Linked DNA regions of Homo sapiens: all the other regions are linked to region 1. The links come from fine-mapping of genetic effects on gene expression. A gene starts in region 1. Each other region holds a variant in brackets. All regions are shown on one strand. Distances are between the middles of the regions. Region 1 holds the start of SH2B3 (SH2B adaptor protein 3). Region 2 overlaps ATXN2 (ataxin 2). Region 3 overlaps ACAD10 (acyl-CoA dehydrogenase family member 10). Region 4 overlaps SH2B3 (SH2B adaptor protein 3).

Region 1 (2,682 bases):
GACATTGCCTTGCCGGGGCCTCTGCTCTGAACCCCCCACCAGATTTCACTTCCTCCCACTCAGCCCAGCCTGGCCGTGCCCCTCCCTGGAGGCCCCCAGCTGCAGGCAGTGACCTCCTCACCTACATCATTGTGGCTGGGAATGGGGAAGAGAAACAGGAGAATGAGGAAACTAAAGAAAAAAAGAAGCGGGACAGGCAGGCAGACCCTCCTCTCCAGTTCCTCAAATGCAGTCCCCCTCCCTCAAAACAAAGCTCCCCTGGCCGGAGGGAGGGAAGGGAGGGAAGGGGATTTCTGCACCAGGCATCAGAGACCTCTGAAATACCATCCCTACCGTGCGGATCTAGAAGACCAACACCCACTCCAGACGTTTTTTGGTCGGGGGATTCCCAGGGAACCCCAGGCAAGAGGTGTGAGAGGATCAATACCAGAAACCTGTCTCTGGGACGCCTAGCCCTGGTGAACCGCCCAATTCAGCAGCATGCGGGGGCCTGGCCCGGTCGACCTCGGCAGTGCAGGAACTGGGGAGAGGGGCTTCCTGAATCAGGGCGCTACCCTCTTAGCCACATGGCCCGGAATGGGGAGTGGGGAGGGGCCGGCGCATCCTCCCCCGCTGCCCCCACACCCAAGGGCTCATCTGTGCTCACAGCCTCAGTTTGACTACTTTCACTTTCAGGGTAGCAATGGGTGACCCCTGACCGCTCCTCCCCAGGCACAAGTTGAGGGGAGGGCCGCCCCCAACCGGCGAGGCTACCGTAGGGTGGGCTGGGGGCGTCAGCGATGCCCTCTCCCCCATCCCACGGCCTCAGTTACCCCAACGCTCTCCCTAACACGTGTGTGGGTGGGGGTAGTGGCTGAGTGGGGGGTCGTAGGCGCTGGGAGCCGTCACCCCGGAACGCCTCCATCCGAGTTGGCTGCAGGGCAGTATTTTGGGCTGGGGGTGACGCGCAGAGCCCGGGCAGAACTGGACACGGGGCCTCCTCTTTCCCCACAAAAGCCCTCCCGGCCCCGGAGGAGGGGAGCGCGGGCAAACGCGGGCTCACCTGAGAGACAGGAGCTCTGGGCCCGGCCGGCCCATGGCGTCGCGCGCCCCCGGGCCCTCGAAATCCCGAGGGGGCGGGCGGGCCCCCGCCCTGGGCGCGTCCTCTCCCGCCCGCCGGCTCCTCGCTCGCGGCTCGCTCGAGCGGGGCTCAGGCAGGAAACCCGGGCTCGGAAAATGGCCAGCGCCTCATCATTTCCGCCGCCAGCGCTTGACAGTTGCGGGAGGATGCGCCCCCGGGCCGCCGCCGCCGGGGAAACTTTGCAGCGGCCGCCGTCGCCACCGCGGGCCGCGACAGTCCGGGCGGGCAGCCGGGCGGAGGCGGTGGCCCGGGCCCATGCCGCCCCGCGCCGTTATGTAAAGAGGAACCGGCCGTGCGAGCGGAGCCCGGCGGGGGAGGCCGGCCGCGACAGGGGCGGGGCAGGGGCGGGGCCACCAGGAGCCACGCCTCAGGCCGCGCGCGAGTCGGAGATTCGGCTGGAGGGGCGGGCCATGAGGGCGGAGCCCGGACTGGCCCCGCCTACCAATCCCGCTAGTCCGCGGCTGCCAGGGTCGGAGGGCTCTCCTGGCGCGGGTCCGGAAAAAGGCGAGGCCTTGCGAAGCCACGCCCACCACGTGCCCACCCGATTTCGCGTCCCACAGTCTGAAGATAGAAGTGAGGATCGGAGGGGCGGGGCGACTTTAGCCCCACCCACTCAACGCCGGCAGGTCACCAGGTGCCTCAGCGCCTGGAGGCGGGGCCAGATGAAGGGGCGGGGCCTAGGGCGGGCAGGGTCGAGGGGCCTGGCCTCCAGGGGGCGCGCCCTTGCTGACTCCCTCCTGCAGGGCCTTATCAGTGCCCGCAGGGCTGGGCGGTGCAATAGCGACCACGGCTTTCATCATCGCCCCAGGGAGGGAGCCCAGCCCTGCCCGACCCTGACTATCTGCGATCATGCTGACCCGACCCGCCACGGCCCCAGGCCCCCGATTTGGGTTCTGGCCCCAGCCCTCAGCTTTGCCTTTGCTACAGCCGGTGCCCGTATAGCCCAGCCTCGCTCCGGCCGCCCGTCCTGTCCCCCAATTCTAGGAGGGGTGCATCTTTCTCCAGGAAGCCCTCTCCGACCGCTGGCTTCCGTGGCCTCTGCGCCCACCCCCCTGCCCGCCCCCGGGCTACTTACATTTTCTCCACGGCCTCATGGGGAGCTGAGACGGACAGTGGGGTTCCCCCTAGTCCGGAGTGGGACATGCTCTCAGCCAGCCTCTCCCCCAACATGTGGGAGGGCGGGGAGGGAGGAATGTACTCTTCTCCCCCTCCCCCAACAGGAAACAAGTCGCCCACGCCCCCAGCTTGGAGGGGCCACCTCGAGTCTTCCCAGGCAGCAAGTGTCTCCATTCCACTGCCTCCCCCTCTTCCTACCCGGGCAAATGACTTGACTTCTCCGTACCTCTCCACTTCCTTGCCTATGAAATGGAAATAATGTGTACCCACTCTCCTGGCAGTGAGAATTAAGTGAGTTAATGCATTAAAGCAGTTAGCTCGAGGCTTGGCTCCAGGAAGCTCTCTGTGTTAAACAAATCGGCCCCAGTCCTGACCTTAGAACTACAGGAAGGGGTTCCCCAGAAGGTGGGGATTTCCAGACTCCGAGTAGATGGGGGAAGGGAGCG
Region 2 (2,682 bases), 67 kb before region 1:
CTCCTAAAGTGCTAGGATTACAGGCCAGCACTTTAGGAGGTGCTGGATGAGCCATCACACCCAGCCAAGTCATAGGTTTTTTTGTTTGTTTGTTTTTTGAGACAGTGTCTAACTCTGTCACCCAAGCTGGAGTGCAGTGGCATGATTTCAGCTCAGTGCAGTCTCTACCAATTGGGCTTAGGTGGTCCTCCCACCTCAACCTCCCAAGTAGCTGGGACTAAAGGTGCGCGCCACCATACCTGGCTAATTTTTGTATTTTTTGTAGAGACAGGGTTTCGAATTCCTGAGCTCAAGCAGTCTGCCTGCCTTGACTCCCAAGGTGCCAGGATTACAGGCATGAGCCACTGCACTCAGCCCTCACAGTTTTAATTACAGTTTTTCCCTTAGTTTTTGTCTTGTTCATATCCAGCTTGTCTTGTATTTTTTTCCCACGATCTGAATTTTGCTGACTGTATCCCTGTGTTGATATTTAAAGTAGACTTCTGTCCCCTGTAATCTTTGTAAACTGATAGTAAATAATGAAGGCTTGATCAGATTGGGTTTTTTTTTTTTTTCCCCAATGTTTCACAGATGTGTGTACTTTCAGTGAGGAGTCATGTAATCAGTCTTTTTCCTGATAGGAGTAGTCAGTGAGTTCCTAGATGTTTTATCTATCCAGGAGATAATATGTCCCTTTAGCGCCTTAATTTTTTTGGTGTGTTTTTTAGCAGCCATTGATGATAATTGTCTAGCCCAAGATCAGTTATTTCCTTAGGGGTTGTAAAATGGTGACATTCTTTTCCTTTCATCCCTTCTTCAATTATTGCCTGGAATATTTCTATAAAGAAAAACTTTCCCATATCCAGCTGTTTGGTTACCCTGAGGTATAGCTTTCTTAGGAAAAGTAATTTAAAATGTTAATCATTTCCCTTTTTAAGGCAGTCTTCAAAATAATGAGTTGGTTTTCTGTTATCCTCCAAAGGTAACCAGTGAGGTGGTTTTTTTGTCGTTGGTTCTTACTATCAGTATAAACTTCTGGAATTTTTTTTTTTTTTTTAATTTTTTGGAGACAAGGTCTGGCTCTGTTACCTAGGCTGGAGTGCAGTGGGATGATCTGGGCATACTGCAGCCTCAACTTCCCGAGCTAAGGCAATCCCCCCACCTCAGCCTCCCAAGTAGCTGGGACTACAGGCAAGCACCACCGTGCCTGGCTTAATTTTTGTATATTTTGCAGAGACAGGGTTTCACCATGTTGCCCAGGCTGGTGTCGAACTCCTGAGCTCAAGCAGTCTGCCTGTGTCAGCCTCACAAAGTGGTGGGACTACAGGCATGAGCCACCATGGCAGGCCAGAATCACAATAAACTTATAAATTAACTTGAGAAGAAATGATTGATGTCTTCATGATGTTGAGTCTTCCTGTTCAAGAACAAAGTATACCTTCAATAGCATATTAAAGTTTATCCTTGGCTGGATGCAGTGGCTGACGCCTGTAATCCCACCTCTTTGGGAGGCAGAGGTGGGCAGATCACCTGAGGTCTGGAGTTCGAGACCA[G/C]CCTGGCCAACATGGTGAAACCCCGTCTCTACTAAAAATATTTTAAAAAAAGTATTAGCTGGGTGTGGTGTGCACCTGTAGTCCCAGCTACTCTGGAGGCTGAGGTAGGAGAATCGCTTGAACCCAGGAGGCAGAGAGTGCAGTGAGTCAAGATTGCACCACTGCACTCCAGCTTGGGCAACCGAGCGACACTCTGTCTCAAAGAAAATAAATAAATAAAAATAAAGTTTATCTTTAAGGTTTTGTACATTTTTTTCAGTGTATGCCTTAGGTAGGTTCTTTTTTAATGTTAGTGTAACCCAGGGACTTCTCTTCCATTGCATCTTCTAAGTAATTACTTATGAAGTACCATATATGAAGGCTATTGCTGTTTATATGTTAGTTTTTACCCTGCTCCTTTACTAAATTCCAATCCTTTGAGGTATTGGATAAAAATATTTTTAGCATTTTTCAAATAACAGGCAGAGTCAAGGGCTTGGTTTCTTTTCTTCCCCTCCTGTCCCCTACCCTCCCCTTTTTTGAGACAGGGTCTCACTTCTTCGCCGAGGCTGGAGTGCAGTGGTGCAGTTACGGCTTACCGCGGCATCTGCCTCCCTGGCTGAAAAGTTCCTCCCACCTCAGCCTCCTGAGTAGCTGGGACCATAGATGCACAGCACCGCAGCTGGCTAATATTTTTGTATTTTTTGTGGAGGCAGTGTCTCCCCATGTTGCCCAGGGTGGTCCCAAACTCATGAGCTCAAGCAGTCCGCTCGCCCTGGCCTCCTAAAGTGTAGGGATTATAAGCGTGAGCCACTGCGCCTGGCCTGGGGATCATGTTTTAACATGAGAATTAGTGGAGACAAACACATGATATCTAAATAATAGCACCATAGTATACTTGACTAGCTTTTTAATTATTTTTTAAATATACAGGAAGGTAATAAGTAACAAAGTAATAATAGTGAATAGTTTAAGCTCAGTTAGCATAATCGGGCAAACTTTCATTTGATAAAAGTGATAAGTAGTTTTCAGTGGCTTTTTTGTTTACCAGAAGGAGGTGGTTTTTAAATACGTGCATCCAAGATAAAATATAAAAAAATGTTCAGGTTTGCTTTCCTACATAGATAAAATAATATGTAACTAGCTCTCCCAAATTTCAGCAACAGTTAGT
Region 3 (2,682 bases), 320 kb before region 1:
GGTCTTTGTAGATGAGACCTGGGCAGTACTCCATCACATAGAAGGGGGTGCCAATGACACTGGGAGGAACACAGAAGGGGTTTCAGGGATCAGAGTCATAATGTGGCAGGCTGTTAGTCATGACCCTATTCTTTGTCACTTTCCCTGGGTATACAGGTTGAGAGCTGGTGAAGAGTTCAGACCCAGAGCACTGGATACTTCCTTTTTCCTTTCACATAAGCACAGTGCATTAGAAGTATCCTCTCTTGCAATGGATCGATCCACATACATGCACACACACATATACATACACACGTGCACACACACACATGCACACCCATCTATGCTTCTTGGACAGCATGCTTTTCTCTTCTCCCTGGTTCATTTGTGTAAGCCACAGGAATGGATTCAAAGTGTAATAATGTAGCAAGCAGCAAGGCTCAGAGAAGGACCTCTGGAGTCACACCGAACCAGGTTTTTATTTTTTGTTTATTTATTTATTTATTTTTTAATTTTTTGAGACGGAGTCTCGCTCTGTCACCCAGGCTGGAGTGCAGTGGCGCGATCTCGGCTCACTGCAAGCTCCGCCTCCCAGGTTCATACCATTCTCCTGCCTCAGCCTCCTGAGTAGCTGGGACTACAGGCACCCGCCACCACGCCCGGCTAATTTTTTGTATTTTGAGTAGAGACAGGATTTCACCGTGTTAGCCAGGATGGTCTTGATCTCCTGACCTCGTGATCCACCCGCCTTGGCCTCCCAAAGTGGTGGGATTATAGGCGTGAGCCACTGCTCCCGGCCTATTTATTTATTTTTTTGAGATGGAGTCTTGCTCTGTCGCCCAGGCTGGAGTGCAGTGGCGCGATCTTGGCTTACTGCAACCTCCTTCTCCTGGGTTCAAGCGATTATCCTGCCTCAGCCTCCCAAATAGTTGGGACTCCAGGTGCATGCCACCACGCCTGACTAATTTTTGTATTTTTAGTAGAGATGGGGTTTCACCATATTGGCCAGGCTGGTCTCAAACTCCTGACCTCAGGTAATCTGACTGCCTCAGCCTCCCAAAGTGTTGGGATTACGTGTGTGAGCCACTGCACCTGGTTGGAACCAGGTTTAAATCCCAACTCTGCTCTTAGTTGAAGAGTGACCCTGAGAGACTTATTAAACCTCTCTGAGCTTTGTTGTTGAGATGGAGTCTCGCTCTGTTGCCTAGGCTGAAGTGCAGTGGTACGATCTTGGCTCACTGCAACCTCCGCCTCCCGGGTTCAAGTGATTCTCCTGCCTCAGCATCCCGAATAGCTGAAACTACAGGTATGTGCCACCACAACCAGCTAATTTTTTGTATTTTTAGTAGAGACGGTGTTTCACTCTGTTAGCCAGGATGGTCTCAATCTCCTGACCTCGTAATCCATCCGCCTCAGCCTCCCAAAGTGCTGGGATTACAGGCGTGAGCCACTGCACCCAGCCATGTTGTTGTTTTTTAATCTGTAAAACATACATACTTCAAAGGGTAATTGCAAGAATTAAGGGAGCTTCCAGGGTATTTGTTACTTAAAAAAAGAAATGAATTAGGGAACAAACA[T/C]ACAGAGTGCCTGACATGGTCTCTGGTTCCAATAAGGGTTCAATAAGTATCCCTTCTTGTTATTGAGGTTATTTTTATCATTTTTTGGTGGTATGAGTGGTGTATATACCACCCAGCAGTACTAAGGTGACCCAATGACATGTCACTAATCCATCTTTTGGTCATTACTAGCAAACAGTTTACTACTCTATTTATTTATTTATTTATTTTTGAGATGGAGTCTCACTCTATCACCTAGGCTGGAGTGCAGTGGTGCGATCTTGGCCTACTGCAAACTCTGCCTCTCAGGTTCAAATGATTCTCCTGCTTCAGCCTCCAAAGTAGCTGGGACTCCAGGTGAGCGCCACCATGCCCAGCTAATTTCTGTATTTTCAGTAGAGACGGGGTTTCACCACGTTGGCCAGGCTGGTCTCAAACTCCTGGCTTCAAGTGATCCATCTGCCTCAGCCTCCAGTTTACTACTCTAAAAAATTGTTTTGAAAATCCTACCATTACAAATGTTTCAAGTTGAAAAATTATTACAAAAGATGTTTTGGATTGGGGAAATTTGAACATGGGTTAGATATTCAGTATTATTATTAAATAATTGTTAGTTAGGTATACTGGTGTTGTGGTTATGAAAAACAATGTCGGCCGGGTGCAGTGGCTCATACCTGTAATCCAGCACTTTGGGAGGCCGAGGCGGATGGATCACTTGAGGTCAAGAGTTTGAGACCAGCCTGGCCAACAAGGCGAAACCCCGTCTCCATTAAAAATACAAAAATTAGCCGGGTGTGGTGGCACATGCCTATAATCCCAGCTACTTGGGAGGCTAAGGCAGGAGAACTGCTTGAATCCAGGAGGCAGAGGTTGCAGTGTGCCCAGACCGCGCCATTTCGCTCCAGCCTGGGCAACAGAGTGAGACTCCATCTCAAAAAAAAAAGAAGAAGAAGAAAAGAAAGGAAAAAAAAAAAGACAGGGTCTCACTCTATCATCCAGCCTGGAGTGCAGTGATGTGATCACAGCTCACTGCAGCCTCCACCTCCCAGGCTCAGGTGATCCTCCCACCACAATCTTCCGGGTAAGTAGGTAGGACTACAGGTGTGCACCTCCACGCCTGGCTAATTTTTTGTTTGTTTTTGTAGAG
Region 4 (2,682 bases), 35 kb before region 1:
AATACTTAATCCAAGCTTACTGTCTAGTATCAAAAAGTTAACCTACTTGGGAAGCTGAGGCAGGAGAATCACTTGAACCTGGGAGACAGAGGTTGCAGTGAGCTGAGATCACACCACTGTACTCTAGACTGGTCGACAGAGTGAGACCCTGTCTTAAAAAAAAAAAAATTCCTTGCCTTCTTCCAAAAATGATTTTAGTCAGGTTAGAGACACCCAGAAAGAGCTGGGAGACAGCTGCTACAACACAGACAAGAGTCCCTCTTGCCACAGATTTGTCTCAGCTTCCTGGCAGCCAATGCAAAGGATTCTCCGAGAGAGGACAGTCATTTGTGGAAAGAGAATGCTGCTGCTTAGCTCCATTAAAGACTCTGAGAAGTCCTGCAGCAGAGAAACCTATTAAACCCATGCATTACCCAGACTTTGACCTATTTCATAGACCTTATTACCATCCCAAGGTAATATGGGATTGAGGTGAGGAAGGTCCTCACCTCGCAAACTCTCCTTAAACGTGGTGCGTCTCAGCCATTCTCTGGGGTGGGCAGCATCAAGACTGAGCCTAGTTGCTAAAAGCCATCCAGTATCCTGCCCAGAAATCCCTCAGGGCTACAGAACCATGCAGCAACTCCACCACCCTGAGGTTTGGGACACTTAGTCCTGTGCTTGAGTCCCAACTCTGCCTTCTCTTCCATAGGTAAGTGACTCACCTCTCCTAGCCTCAGTTTCCAATTTTTTTTTTTTTTTTTTAAGAGATAGGGTCTTGCTCTGTGGCCCAGGCTGGCTCACTGCAGCCTCAAACTCCTGGGGGCTCAAGTGAGCCTCCTGCCTTGGCCTCCCAGGTAGCTGGGATTACAGACACATGCCACCACATGTGGCTGATTATTTTTTTGTAGAGATAGAGATAGGATCTCGCTATGTTGTCCAGGCTGGTCTCAAACTCCTGGCTCAAGTGATCCTTCTGCCTCGGCCTCCCAAAATGAGTCTCCACGTGTGTGTATGTGTGTATTTTGTTTTTGAGGCAGGGTCCCTCTCTGTTGCCCAGGATAGAGTATAAACTAGCTCACTGCAGCCTTGACCTCCTGGGCTCAAGCAAGAGTCTGCATTTTCTAAGGTGGGATAATAATGCCACTACCCTTCCCTGAGAATATGAGCATAGTGTGTGCAACAGAGCTCCCAGAGGGTATGGAAGGATCTCAGGGGAATGGTAAGGCAGGGAGGAGCACAGGGCCTTAGGAGCTCAGCCTTAAGAGAGACTTGGGAGCAAGAAGGCCCCTCCCTGGGCAGCCCTCCTGAGTTGTCACTCCCCTGCTCCCATGCACCAGAGGCTCAAGAAGGCCTCCCTCTTCCTTTTCCATCTTTCGGTCTTGGCCCAGCACAGAGAAAGG[A/G]GCAGTAGCGTTTGCTGAATATTCTCCGAAGTGGGGATGGTGGAGAAAAAGGCACTGGAGGTTAAGGGAATAGCAAGAGCCAACACCCAGAGGGCAGAAGGCACAGCCCCAGGCTAGAAGACAACAGGGGCTTGACTGTGGCTGGAAATGACGCTCACAGACCCCACACCACCCTTTAGTGAGCATCTGCTGTGTGCCAGGCATTGGAGCCTGGGTGGCCCACCAGCAGTTTCCAGATTGTGGAATTCACAGGCCGGCAACATTTTTCAAAAAGTTTTCCAAGAGGAAGTCACAGAAATGGGCGTCACACCATCAAGGACACGACGAAACCAAGTAGGACGTCATGGTTCCAGAGCAAAGGACAATCCTGGGCATCATGGACAGTGAGATTTATGAAGGAGAAGCCTCACCACCCTGCCCCGGGCCAGCTCCGTGCAAGGAGCAGTGTGTGTGAGCCTCACGTGGCCCTCCTGTGCCTTCACCTACTTCACAGATGAGAAGGCTCAAGAGACCTCCAAGGGGGAGGGAACACAGCACAGGGTGCTTCTATGACCTTCTGGCACAGGACATCTGGAAGGGAGTTTGGAATCTGCATTTTAACATGGGACCTGGGTGGATCTGAAACCCACCGGCGTCTGAGCTGGCTGGGGTCTGAGGGAGGTCAAGAGAGCTGGGCAGGGAGGCCTCTGTCCCCCATCTTCCCCCCAGATGCCAGGGAGCCACAGAAGATGTGCAGGAGGGGAGGCACGGCCCATCCCTCAAAGGCAGAAAGTGGTGGATGCTGGGAGCTGAGCAGCCAGGATTCCAGTCCCAGACAACTGCTGGGGGAAAGGGGTATTCACAAGGAGCCCCCAGTGAGGAGAGAGGAGCCAGGCTGGAAAACAGTGTGACACCTGGGCCCTCTGGGAGTTGGGCAGCATCAAAAACTGCCATCTGTCCCATCAGACTACGCCCAAGTCTGTCCAGAATTAGCTATTTCCACCCCCACGATGCTGCTCCAGCCTACCCTCCTCTGCTCAAAACTCCCCTGCAGCTACAGGAGGCTGAAGCAGGGAGGTTGAGGCTGCCGTGAACTATGATGGTGCCACTGCACTCCAGCCTCGACAACAGAGCAAAATCTCATCTCAAAAGAAACTCCCGGCTGGGCGCAGTGGCTCACGCCTGTAATCCCAGCACTTTGGGAGGCCGAGGCGGGCAGATCACAAGGTCAGGAGTTCAAGACCAGCCTGGCCAATATGGTGAAACCCTGTCTCTATTAAAAATACAAAAATTAGGCCAGGTGCGGTGGCTCACACCTGTA

What was found. PIP is the estimated chance that this variant, and not a neighbour inherited with it, causes the effect. A credible set is the group of variants that fine-mapping cannot tell apart.
Region 2: its variant is the best candidate, but not a certain one, in a credible set for the expression of SH2B3 in whole blood (TOPMed, PIP 0.76).
Region 3: its variant is the best candidate, but not a certain one, in a credible set for the expression of SH2B3 in whole blood (TOPMed, PIP 0.59).
Region 4: its variant is the best candidate, but not a certain one, in a credible set for the expression of SH2B3 in pancreas (GTEx, PIP 0.55).

The regions. Positions count from the first base shown.
Region 1 is chr12:111,404,638-111,407,319 of GRCh38, reverse strand. It overlaps SH2B3 (SH2B adaptor protein 3), which reads right to left and starts at 1,397. Exons shown (of 8, transcript NM_005475.3): 1 at 1,043-1,397. RefSeq lists silencers at 1,059-1,638, 1,759-1,918.
Region 2 is chr12:111,471,637-111,474,318 of GRCh38, reverse strand. The region is part of intron 18 of ATXN2 (ataxin 2); the gene reads left to right. Among named protein-coding and RNA genes, the nearest start is that of SH2B3, 67 kb to the right of the region's middle. The variant G/C (reference allele first, on the strand shown) is at 1,533.
Region 3 is chr12:111,725,339-111,728,020 of GRCh38, reverse strand. ACAD10 (acyl-CoA dehydrogenase family member 10) reads right to left here. Exons shown (of 21, transcript NM_025247.6): 9 at 1-59. Among named protein-coding and RNA genes, the nearest start is that of ALDH2, 40 kb to the left of the region's middle. The variant T/C (reference allele first, on the strand shown) is at 1,557.
Region 4 is chr12:111,439,423-111,442,104 of GRCh38, reverse strand. The region is part of intron 2 of SH2B3 (SH2B adaptor protein 3); the gene reads right to left. LOC124903019 (a long non-coding RNA gene) reads left to right here. Exons shown (of 2, transcript XR_007063462.1): 1 at 1-2,682. Among named protein-coding and RNA genes, the nearest start is that of SH2B3, 35 kb to the right of the region's middle. RefSeq lists an enhancer at 1,417-1,961. The variant A/G (reference allele first, on the strand shown) is at 1,383.